Linked DNA regions of Homo sapiens: region 2 is linked to region 1. The links come from fine-mapping of genetic effects on gene expression. A gene starts in region 1. The other region holds a variant in brackets. All regions are shown on one strand. Distances are between the middles of the regions. Region 1 holds the start of CIMIP2B (ciliary microtubule inner protein 2B). Region 2 overlaps RUSC2 (RUN and SH3 domain containing 2).

Region 1 (5,378 bases):
TTTTCTTTTATTCATCCTTGCAGAGGGGATTTATGCTTGCCTAGGGTTGACATACAATCAAATGATTGATTTGGGATCTGTATGAAATTTTATAGCAGTTCCTGGTCAGAATCAAAGGCAGAACAGAAGGCTATAGGCTGCCATTGTGGGGACCCAGCAGGCTGTGTGGACTGAGTGGGGCGCTGTCTCCAGTTAAACATTTTCTCTCCACTGCCACATCCAACACTGGCCACTGGGTGTGGCAGCTCCCATCAGAGCAAGTTGTGGTCATGTTTCTGTGATGTCTGTCCCTGGAAGGAGGCACAGAGGCAGCAAGCATTCCTGTGGTGCCTCAGCTGGCCCCGTCACTCCTTTCTCAGATTAGAACACCCTTCAGGGATCTAGAAATATTCTTTATTCAGATGGAAACAATCATAGTAACAGGCCATTCTACCAATTGGATAGAGCTGTTTCTTCATAAGCCATAAACCTAAGACTAATCCTAATCTGTTTCCTAACTTGTGTTTTAACGCATACCCGGATTCTAACTGCCATGGTCTTTTCTGCAGAATGTGTTCTAGTCCCTACATCCTAATTTATACCCCAACTTCCATTCAAACCTTTCCCTTTTTCAATTTCATGAACCTTTCCCCTGAACCTCTAACATCTGTGACTGCTCCCAGCTCCTTTCCTTCCTCCCATTCCTGCCAAATGCTAGCCGTGAATTGCTGTTTAGTTAGCACTTACCGTAAGCTAGACGCTGGGGTCATTGCTCATTGTGTATCATCTCAGCTAGCTGATATCCTACTCTATGAGATGGTAACATTAGTTTTTCCATTTTACAGATGAGAAAACTGAGGCTCAATGAGATGAATTTGGACAAAGTCTATATCTCTGGTGAAGCTAGGATTTGATCTAGTGGTGTTTTTTTGTTTTGTTTTGTTTTTGAGACGGAGTCTCACTCTGTTGCCCAAGCTGGAGTGCAATGTGCGATCTCAGCTCACTGCAAGCTCCACCTCCTGGGTTCATGTGATTCTCCTGCCTCAACCTCCTGAGTAGCTGGGACTACAGGTGCCCACCACCACGCTTGGCTAATTTTTGTATTTTTAGTAGAGACAGGATTTCACTATGTTGGCCAGGCTGGTCTCGAACTCATGACCTTGTGATCCTCCTGCCTCGGCCTCCCAAAGTGCTGGGATTAAGGGTGTGAGCCACCGTGCCTGGCTGTTTTGTTTTTTAAAGTTATGATGCCTTTGGCTGTAAGTGAAAGAAAACTTAAAGTGGCCTTAATAATGAAATTTACTATTTGACATAAAAAGGCTGATTAATTCCATGGCTCTACATTACCCTCAGGACCCTGGCCTTTCTCCTCTACCATCCATCCTTGATGTGTCCAGGACTTGTCTTCAGGTTAGCTTTCCACAAGGCTTCCACATGCCTGCCAGCATTCCAGCCTCACATCCCCCAAAAGTCTAGGGGCAGGAATGGACATCGTTTCGTCTTGCGCATCTCTGTCTCTCTCACTTGCTCTAATTTGATGTGAATCTTTTCTTTAAGAGCAAAGAAACTTTTCCCAGGACCCTCCCCTGCCCCAGCAGATTTCCCCTCATATTATCCAGAATGCTGGAAGCCCGTGCCTAAGCGGTCATGGGGAAGGAGCATGGGACCACGCTTAGACTAATCCAGCTCATTCCTCCAGGCTGGCTCTCCAAGCCTCCCTGATGCAGTTTCTGGCTCCTCGGAAGAAAGGAGATGGGGGTCAGGAATAGGTATAAGCTGTGATAGTGTCTGTCACAGAATCCCAAGTCTGGTTGTTAAGCTTGACACACTGCTGCTATTCTGGGCTTGCCCCTCGGCTCCCATCCTCACTCTAACATATTTCCTCAGCTGTGAGGTAAGTCCCCACAACTCTAAATGACACATTCTAAGGCTGTCCTTGGCAGAACAGTGAGGAACATGAAATGTGTGCCTTGGAGCCCAGTGCTCTTATGTAATTCCCCTGGGATGTCAGTGCCGTCCTTGGTCAGCGCAGGCATGGTCACTGGAGGTGGGGAGAAGAGCAGAGCTCTGCCTCAGAAACGTGGGCCCTGAGCCCTCAGCCTGGCCCTGACCCAGCCCCAGAACTTTTTGTTTTGTTTTGTTTTTTGAGGTGGGGTCTGGCTGTGTTGCCCAGTTTGGACTGAAACTCCCGGACCCAAGTGATCCTCCCACCTCAGCCTCCTCAGTACGTTGATGTGAGCGTGGCTGCACCCGGCCCAGAGTTGGGTTTTAAACATGTTTCCCCGTCCTCTGAGATCTCATCTTCCTGGTCTGTGCTTTTTCTTCTCTTAGAATCCGAATTTTTTATTTTATTTTATTTTTTTAACAAATTCTAACTTGCTCCCTAGTGTTACCGCCCACACCTACAACAACTTTATCCTGTTTCCTTCCCTCAACCCCCACAGCTTTTCTGGCTCCCATGGAGTGCACACTCGGCCACTGTGGCCGGAGCCTGGCAGAGCCTGGCTCATTTGTTGAATGGATGACTCTGATTATAGCAGGTATTCAGTAAGCCACTCTTGTTAAATTATTGAAAATAAACGATGTTACTCCCTAGAGGTGTCTAGGTTCCTTTTTTTCCCCCATCACCTGTCCTCTTTCACCTCCCCTCTGGGCCCTGGCTTCCCTCAAAGATCCTTTCTCCAGGTCCCCCATCTCCTTTGATGAAGACTCATGAGGAACACAGTGTCCACCTCTCAGGCAGGCGCTCAGGAAGGAAGTCGCTGAGACAGAGCTCAGTGGCCCGAATGGTTTCTGCTCCCTCACCTCCCACGTCCCACCTCCCACGTCCCACCTCAGGGCTTCCTTCGGTTCGGGCCCTGCCCCACGAGCAGGACCACCTTTGTCCTGGACAGACAGACCTGCTAGCCTCTGCTCTACAGTTCTGCCGGCCTTCGCCCTGGCTGTCCTCACACGAGTGCCCCCTCCCTTCTCTCCTCCCTTAGCCCCGCCTCCTTCCTCTAGCCCCACAGCCCTGGACACGGTACACACAGACCAGAGCCTTGGCTCAAAGGCAAACAAAAGGAAATGCCCGGCTCCCCATGGCTGTGGCCAGCACCTTCATACCAGGGCTCAACCCTCAGAACCCTCATTATATCCCAGGGTAAGACTCCCACTTAGCGCTCCCCGCTTGCTGCTGGGAGTAGGGGTATAGGGTGGAGGAATTAAGCTGCTTAGAGCATGGGGCCAAGCGGACAGGTTGGTTTGGGAGGCTGAGGTCTCTATGGTGGTGGATGGAAAAGGAGAAGCAAGGGACTAGTGAGACACCGGGTCTGCCCCAAAGCTTTGTGTTGTTCTCTCCATGGGAACAGGGTAACAGCAGAGGAAGGATCGAAAGCCCAGGCAGAGAACTTAGAAATGCCTGCTCCAAATATATACACTGCTGAGTCCAGAAAGATCAGGGCTTCAGAGGTCTCCGCTTCTGCCTCTGGGGATGGCGGGGCAGGGCGATTCTGGTGAGTGGGAGAGTCTGTGCTGCAGGTACACTGGACACTGCCCACTACTTCGGTTCAGCGTGGGCCAGACCTATGGGCAGGTGACTGGTCAGCTACTTCGAGGCCCTCCTGGCCTAGCCTGGCCCCCTGTCCACCGCACACTTCTGCCTCCCATTCGGCCTCCAAGATCTCCTGAGGTTCCCAGGGAGAGTCTACCTGTCAGGCGTGGGCAAGAAAGGCTCAGCTCCAGCATGATCCCTGGGTACACAGGTTTGTACGCAGGTATGCACAGGTGCCCCTCCCAGGAGCATGTGTTCCAAACACTAACGAGTCTTCCTTGTCCCTGCCTGCCCAGGTTTTGTACCCCGGGCACAGTTCATCTTTGCCAAGAACTGCAGCCAGGTCTGGGCCGAGGCTCTGAGTGACTTTACTCACTTGCATGAAAAGCAAGGGAGTGAAGAGCTACCAAAGGAGGCCAAGGGAAGAAAGGACACAGAGAAGGACCAGGTGCCAGAGCCGGAGGGGCAGCTGGAGGAGCCGACACTGGAGGTGGTGGAACAAGTGAGACCAAGAAGCTGGTGGGGAGTGCAGAGGTGTGGGAGTGGGGGTCTTACTGTGTGTCCGGGCAGTGGGGGCAGCATGAGTAGTGTGGCTGTGGGTTCAGGGGATGTGCACTTGATTGTCAGCTCCACCTCCTTGGGAGATTGTGTGACAGCACAGGGGCTTCTCTCACAGGCTTCTCCCTACTCCATGGATGACAGGGACCCTCGGAAGTTCTTCATGTCAGGTGAGAGCTGGGGGGTCAGGATCAGAGGCGTGGGGAGGCCCCAGGATGCCTTGGCTCAGTGTCCCCATCCTCAGGCTTCACTGGCTATGTGCCCTGCGCCCGCTTCCTCTTCGGCTCCAGCTTTCCTGTGCTCACCAACCAGGCACTGCAGGAATTTGGGCAGAAGCACTCACCAGGCAGTGCCCAGGACCCCAAACATCTCCCCCCACTTCCCAGAACATACCCTCAGAACCTGGGTCTTTTACCTAACTATGGGGGCTACGTGCCAGGTGAGAAGAGCCCCCGGGGAGGCTTTGGGGACTGGAATGTTTGTTTGTATGGGTATGGGGTGGGTTGGGTGGTTTGTGGGGGTTGAAACTAATAGATATGGGAGGGCTCAGATCATGTGGTTCAGCTTTATTATCAGGCAGAAAAGGAAACCGAGGTAGCTACCCACAGTGGGGAATTAGGGCCAGATTTTAGAGGGCTGTTTGGAGGTCTAGCCAACTGGCTGAGAATTAAATGGCTTTGCCATGCCACTTGCTACATGTGACAGACTCTCTTGGCCACACAGGGTATAAGTTCCAGTTTGGCCACACATTTGGCCATCTCACCCATGATGCTCTGGGCCTCAGCACCTTCCAGAAGCAGCTCTTGGCTTAGGCCACTGGACATCAAGTTCCCTTCCCTTTTCATCCTATCCCAGCCATCCTTTTGGAAGGGAGAGAGGTGGGTGGGAGGGTGGGAGGGTGGGGGAACACAAAGAGAAAATGGTTTGGAGGCTGAGCACCTTTTTTATTAATAGGTATAATAAATAAATAAATAAATACATAAACAGACGCCTGGGCTCCTCCTCCCTCTTCTGATGACCAGGCACTGGCCACAGCCTATTTACAGCTGGGGGGCTTAGGGATCTGGCCCCAATACTGTTACCCATCCTCATCTCCACCTGGCCTAGGGAACCCTGTAGATGGCTTTCTGGGCCACCCGCCTCCAGGGGGACTTGCTTGTCTTCACCCATGGAAGGGTTGGCCCAGACGGGCCAGGGGAATCCTGGCAGCCCAGTGCTGTGTCCCATCCCTCTCCTGGGTGGAGGTCTGGACAAGGTCACTGGGACAGTTAAGGGGGCGTAATTAATACTGAGCACAGGGAGCAGGTGC
Region 2 (5,378 bases), 22 kb after region 1:
AAAAGACTTCTAATCAGAATATATAAAGAACTCTTACAACTCAACAATAAAAAGACATACGAGGCTGGGCACAGTGGCTCACGCCCGTAATCCTAACACTTTGGGAGGCCGAGGTGGGAGAATCATGAGGTCAGGAGACAGAGACCATCCTGGCCGACATGGTGAAATCCCATCTCTACTAAAAATATAAAAATTAGCTGGGCGTGGTAGTGCATGCCTGTAATCCCAGCTACTTGGGAGGCTGAGGCAGGAGAATCGCTTGAACTAGAGAGTCAGAGGTTGCAGTGAGCTGAGATCATGCCACAGCACTCCAGCCTGGTGACAGAGTGAGACTCTGTCTCAAAAAAAAAAAAAAAAAAAGACATATGATCCAGTTTAAGACAGGGCAAACAGTATGAATAGGCATTTCTCTGAAGAAGACATACAAGTGTCTAACCAGCACATGAAAAGATGTTCAACATCATTAGTCATTAGAGTAATAAAAATCACAATGAGATACTACTTCACTCCAGCTGGGAGGGATAAAATAAGAAATACAGACAATAACAACTAGCAAATGTTGATGATGATATGAAGAAACTGGAACCCTGAAACATTGCCGGGAGTATTGTAAAATGGTGCAGCTACTTTGGAAAAGTCTGACAGTTTATCAAAATGTTAAACATAGTGTCATCACATGACCCAGCAACTGCACTCCTGGGTATATACCCAAGAAAAATGAAAACATATGTTCACACTAAAGCTTGTACACAAATGTTCATAACAGCATTATTCACAGTAGCCAAAAAATTGGGCACAATCGAAGCCAGTCACAAAGGGCTTTTGTGATGTTGTATGATTCCATTTATATGAAATGTCCAGAATAGGCAAATCCATAGAAATAGAATGTCCTGAAATCAGGCCAGGCGTGGTGGCTCATGCCTGTAATCCCAGCACTTTGGGAGGCTGAGGCGGGCGGATCATTTGAGGTCAAGAGTTCAAGACCAGCCTGGCCAACATGGTGAAGCCCTGTCTCTACTAAAAATACAAAAATTAGCCAGGTGTTTGTCACCATTTTTGTAAATAAACATGTCTGTATGCATAGAAGAAAATCTGTAACATGCAACAAACTGTTACCAGTGCCTATCACTGTTGAATGATTTGGATTATTTTTAATTTTATTCTTTTTGCTTCAGCTGTATTTTCTAATTTGTATGTAATAAATACCCATTTTATGCATAATTTAAGCAATTTTTTTCTTTTTTTTGAGACAGGTTCTCACTCTATCACCGAGGCTGGAGTGCAGTGGTGCGATCATGGCTCACTGCAGCCTCAGCCTCTTGGACTCAAGTGATCCACCTCAGCCTCCTGAGTAGCTAGGACCACAGGTGTGTGCCACCACGCCTGGCTAATTTCTGTATTTTTTGTAGAGACATGGTTTCTCCATGTTGCCAAGGCTGGTCTTGAACTCTTGGGCTCAAGTTATCCACCTGCCTTGGCCTTCCAAAGTGCTAGGATTACAGATGTGAGCCACCATGCCGGGCCTAAACAATTTTTTTTCTTTGAGGGGGTTTCTCCTTTCATACATAACTACGTTTCCCCTGGAGTCCTGGCCATAATCCCGAGTCTGGACTAAAAGGAGCATAGAGAACTTTCTTACATAGATAGCAGTAATTTTAGGGGTACCTATGGGTTGCAGCCATCACTGACCTTCAATGAGTACCTTTTCTTCCTTTTTAAAGCATTTTCAAGAGGCATTCACAAGTATCACATAAAAGAATGTATGATTCTGCCACAAAACCATTACCAGGACATACATGCATTAATATGGAAAAACTGATGTACAGATACAGAATGCAGAAAGCTGACTCTCTAAATCAGAGATGAAGAACACATGAGCGTGGGAGATGACGGAGCCCTTGGCTGGAGGGCACTGACAATTGTATTGTAATGTGATGTTGACATATCTATCTCCCAGACTGGAGCACAGTTCTGAGGTTGGAGACTGCAATACAGTGAACTCTGTGCTTGGAACACAGTAGGTGCCTGGTTATTTGTTGACTACTTTTCCCATTAAAATAACCTGAGTTGTTAGTCTTTTTATGATTGAATTATAGGAGTTTTAACATTTATTCTGGATACAAGTCCTCTGTCAGATATATGCCTCATGAATATTTTCTCTCAGCCTGTGGCTTGTCCCTGTTTTCTTAACTGTGTTTTTTGATAAATAGTTTTTAATTTATTAAATTTAAATTGATCAATTGATCAACTGATCATAGAGTTTGTTTCTCTATGGTTAAATCTTTCTGTATCCTAAGAAATCTTTACCTGTCCTAAGACCATAAAGAAATGTACCTATGTTTTCTTCTAAAAGCTGTATAGTTGTAGCTTTTACATTTAGGTTGTATTGAATCCTACTTTAACTGTCAAGCTCTTTCACTGATTGATTTCATTTTATTTTATGCTTTTGTATCTCAGAGAAGATCTTATTCCTTTCTGATCTCCACACAACCAAGAGAAAGGCCGAGCAATGGCTCCTCCATAGACGATTCCAATTCAGCCATCTAAGGGGAAGTTCTCCAGGCATCTCATGAGATTTTGTACTCATGCTTTGCCCACCCCATTCACATTTACTTACAAGGCACTTTTTATGTATGCATATCTTACTGATCCTTACATCAACTTCCAAAGGAGGCAGAGCCATCTTCATTTTTAAAAATAAGGAATTATTTTTATATTTATAAAATTTTAAAAAATGTTATATGATATAAAAATAATTTAAAAAAATTTTATATATATAAAAATTTTAAAATAATTATACACCCAGAAAAATGAAATGACTTGCCCAAGACCACTCAGTGAATAAATAACAGAATTAAGATGAGACTCAGGAATCCTAACTTTTGATCTTTTTTCTTGGTCAGTTAAGAATATAATGAGAGTAGACC[T/C]AGCATGGGGGCTCACACCTGTAATCCCAGCACTTTGGGAGGCTGAGGCAGGTGGATCATGAGGTCAAGAGATTGAGAACATCCTGGCCAACATGGTGAAACCCTGTCTTTACTGAAAATACAAAAATTAGCTGGGTGTGGTGGCACGCTCCTGTAATCCCAGCTACTTGGGAGGCTGAGGCAGGAGAATTACTTGAACCCAGGAGGCGGAGGTTGCAGTGAGCCGAGATCGTGCCACTGCACTCCAGCCTGGGCGACAAAGCGAGAGTCTGTCTTAAAAAAAAAAAATGAGAGTAAACTGTACATATGACACCACAGAGAACATTTACTGAGAGCGTATCTCAGGCTCCTTTCCTGGGAGTGACTTTTTCTACATCAAGACAAGTGGCCCATCCCCTCTAATGAAGGTGAAGAGAAAACAGTGAGCTGGAAGAGCTCATTTCAGACTTTTTCTGCCCTGACTAAATGGAGAGACATGGAAGATGAGGATGGGGGAGAAACAGAGGATCCAGAATAAGAAGAAAGTAGAAGACAGCTCTTTCAGAAGATGAGCCCTCTAGCTATGCCTACCAGGTAGAGTGGAATGGTGGGCTCAGCCAGTATAAAGTTATGAGGTCATGCTCTCCAAAATCAGGAAAAGCTTTCTATGAGAGCCCTTTTCCTGGCCCTTGTCCCAAATGGGTGTCTCTTGTCCTATTATAATACTATAAGTGATCATTTATTAAACACTTATGTGCCATTAATTTATATATATCATCTCTAAATGTACTGTAACATTTTTAAGTAGGCATAATCCTTCCCATTGTAAAGATGAGAAAACCAAAGCTTAGAGTGTGTAAGTAGTTTGTCCACATTTACACATCTGAGATGGGATTCAATCCCAGGTCTGCCCAATTTGTAATTATTTCCACTACAACGGCCTTCCAAAGAAAATGATTGGGGCCACACCCTCTTCCTAAAGTCCTTGCAATTACTCTGCTCCCAGAGCATCTGCTTCCTACCTGTCCTGGGTAGACCCACATTTCAGCCTCCATTTACACAGGTTATGTCTACCGGCCTCTCTATTCTATGAACCTACAGTCCCTTTCATACTGTCCCCAGGCTATGATAACACTTGCCAATCCCACCTCCTGCCCCAGTTCCCAGCCCTCATCTCCCTGCCCCATTCATGGTCTCAAGGCTCATTATTCCCTGCTCTTGTGGTTCACATTCCTAGACACTTCCTGGGAACAAATACACTCCCATAACTATCCAGCATATTCCTTAACCATATAGTTGCACAACATGGCACTACTGTCTCCTATTATCCTATGTTTTTGAACCCTCTACCAAGGTGGTTATTAGAAATGGGAATTTTTTTACAATTATTTTTTACAGACAGAGTCTAGCTTTGTTGCTTAGGCTACAGTGCAGTGATGCGATCATAGCTCACTGCACCTTGAACTCCTGGGCTCAAGTGATCCTCCCACCCAGCCTCCTTAGTAGCTGGGACTACAGGTGCACACCACAATGCCTGGCTAATTTTTAAATTTTTTGTAGAGACAGGGTTTCACCATGTTGCCCAGGCTGGTCTCAACTCCTAGGCTCAAGTGATCCTCCCATCCCAGCCTCTCAAAGTGCTGGGATTACAGGTGTGGAAATGGGAATTTAGGGAACTCTTTCTACCTGCTCAGCAATGGAGCAACTCTGGGCGGGAAAACCCCAGAAAGAAGGTTTCCTCTAGCTTTGGTCATCAGTGTCTTTCTGCCAGTCATAGAACCCCTTCCCTCTTTTTTGGCCTTCTGAATAAAGATGGGGAACACAATGGTCTTCAATTGCTCTTCTCTAGCAATCTGACCTTGACTTGAGATCCTGATAAGGTGCCTCTGTAGGACTGATAACGCTTTTCCTGACTGGTCCTCTCCTGGGTAGGATCAAAGGGAGGAGGGCAGGAGGGTAGATTTGGGAGTGTTAGCTTATGCTTAGGTCTCTTCTTGAAGGCTTACTGTAACAGATCAGGTGCCCTAGGCATTACAATGACTGTCCCTGCCCCTGCCAGACACTGTGGGGCACCCTGGTCAATGTTTTCTTACTCCACCCTTACCTGGAGCCTGGTGGCTCCCATAGCACCAGAAGATATGGTATGTGTGTCTATGTGCATGTATAGCTATGTGCATGCATGCATGCATGTATGTATGTATGTGTGTGTGTGGAGAGAAAGGTTTCCCAGCCCTCCTCTTGAAAGCTGCGAGGATCCTTGCATGTTCTCCATCATAAACTTACAGTAGCTGTAGGGGTGTCTCCTCCTATTAAGCCTTTGTTTCTAGATCTGACTCCCCCATCCCTGACCCATACTAGAAGCTTCATTAGAAATGCCCAAAAAGGAAGGATGAGATCTGCTTCTTGACAAAATAGCATAAATGGCATTAGCCCAAGCCTTGGCTTTTCCCCATCTCTGCACCATAGCCCAAA

The links. PIP is the estimated chance that this variant, and not a neighbour inherited with it, causes the effect. A credible set is the group of variants that fine-mapping cannot tell apart.
Region 2: its variant is the best candidate, but not a certain one, in a credible set for the expression of CIMIP2B in nasal epithelium (TOPMed, PIP 0.66).

Annotation. Positions count from the first base shown.
Region 1 is chr9:35,561,510-35,566,887 of GRCh38, reverse strand. It overlaps CIMIP2B (ciliary microtubule inner protein 2B), which reads left to right and starts at 3,010. Exons shown (of 6, transcript NM_001164310.3): 1 at 3,010-3,121; 2 at 3,499-3,722; 3 at 3,808-4,013; 4 at 4,188-4,239; 5 at 4,314-4,508; 6 at 4,793-5,057. The coding sequence starts at 3,060. The coding sequence ends at 4,881. RUSC2 (RUN and SH3 domain containing 2) reads right to left here. Exons shown (of 12, transcript NM_014806.5): 12 at 4,993-5,378.
Region 2 is chr9:35,539,290-35,544,667 of GRCh38, reverse strand. The region is part of intron 1 of RUSC2 (RUN and SH3 domain containing 2); the gene reads right to left. Among named protein-coding and RNA genes, the nearest start is that of CIMIP2B, 22 kb to the left of the region's middle. The variant T/C (reference allele first, on the strand shown) is at 2,928.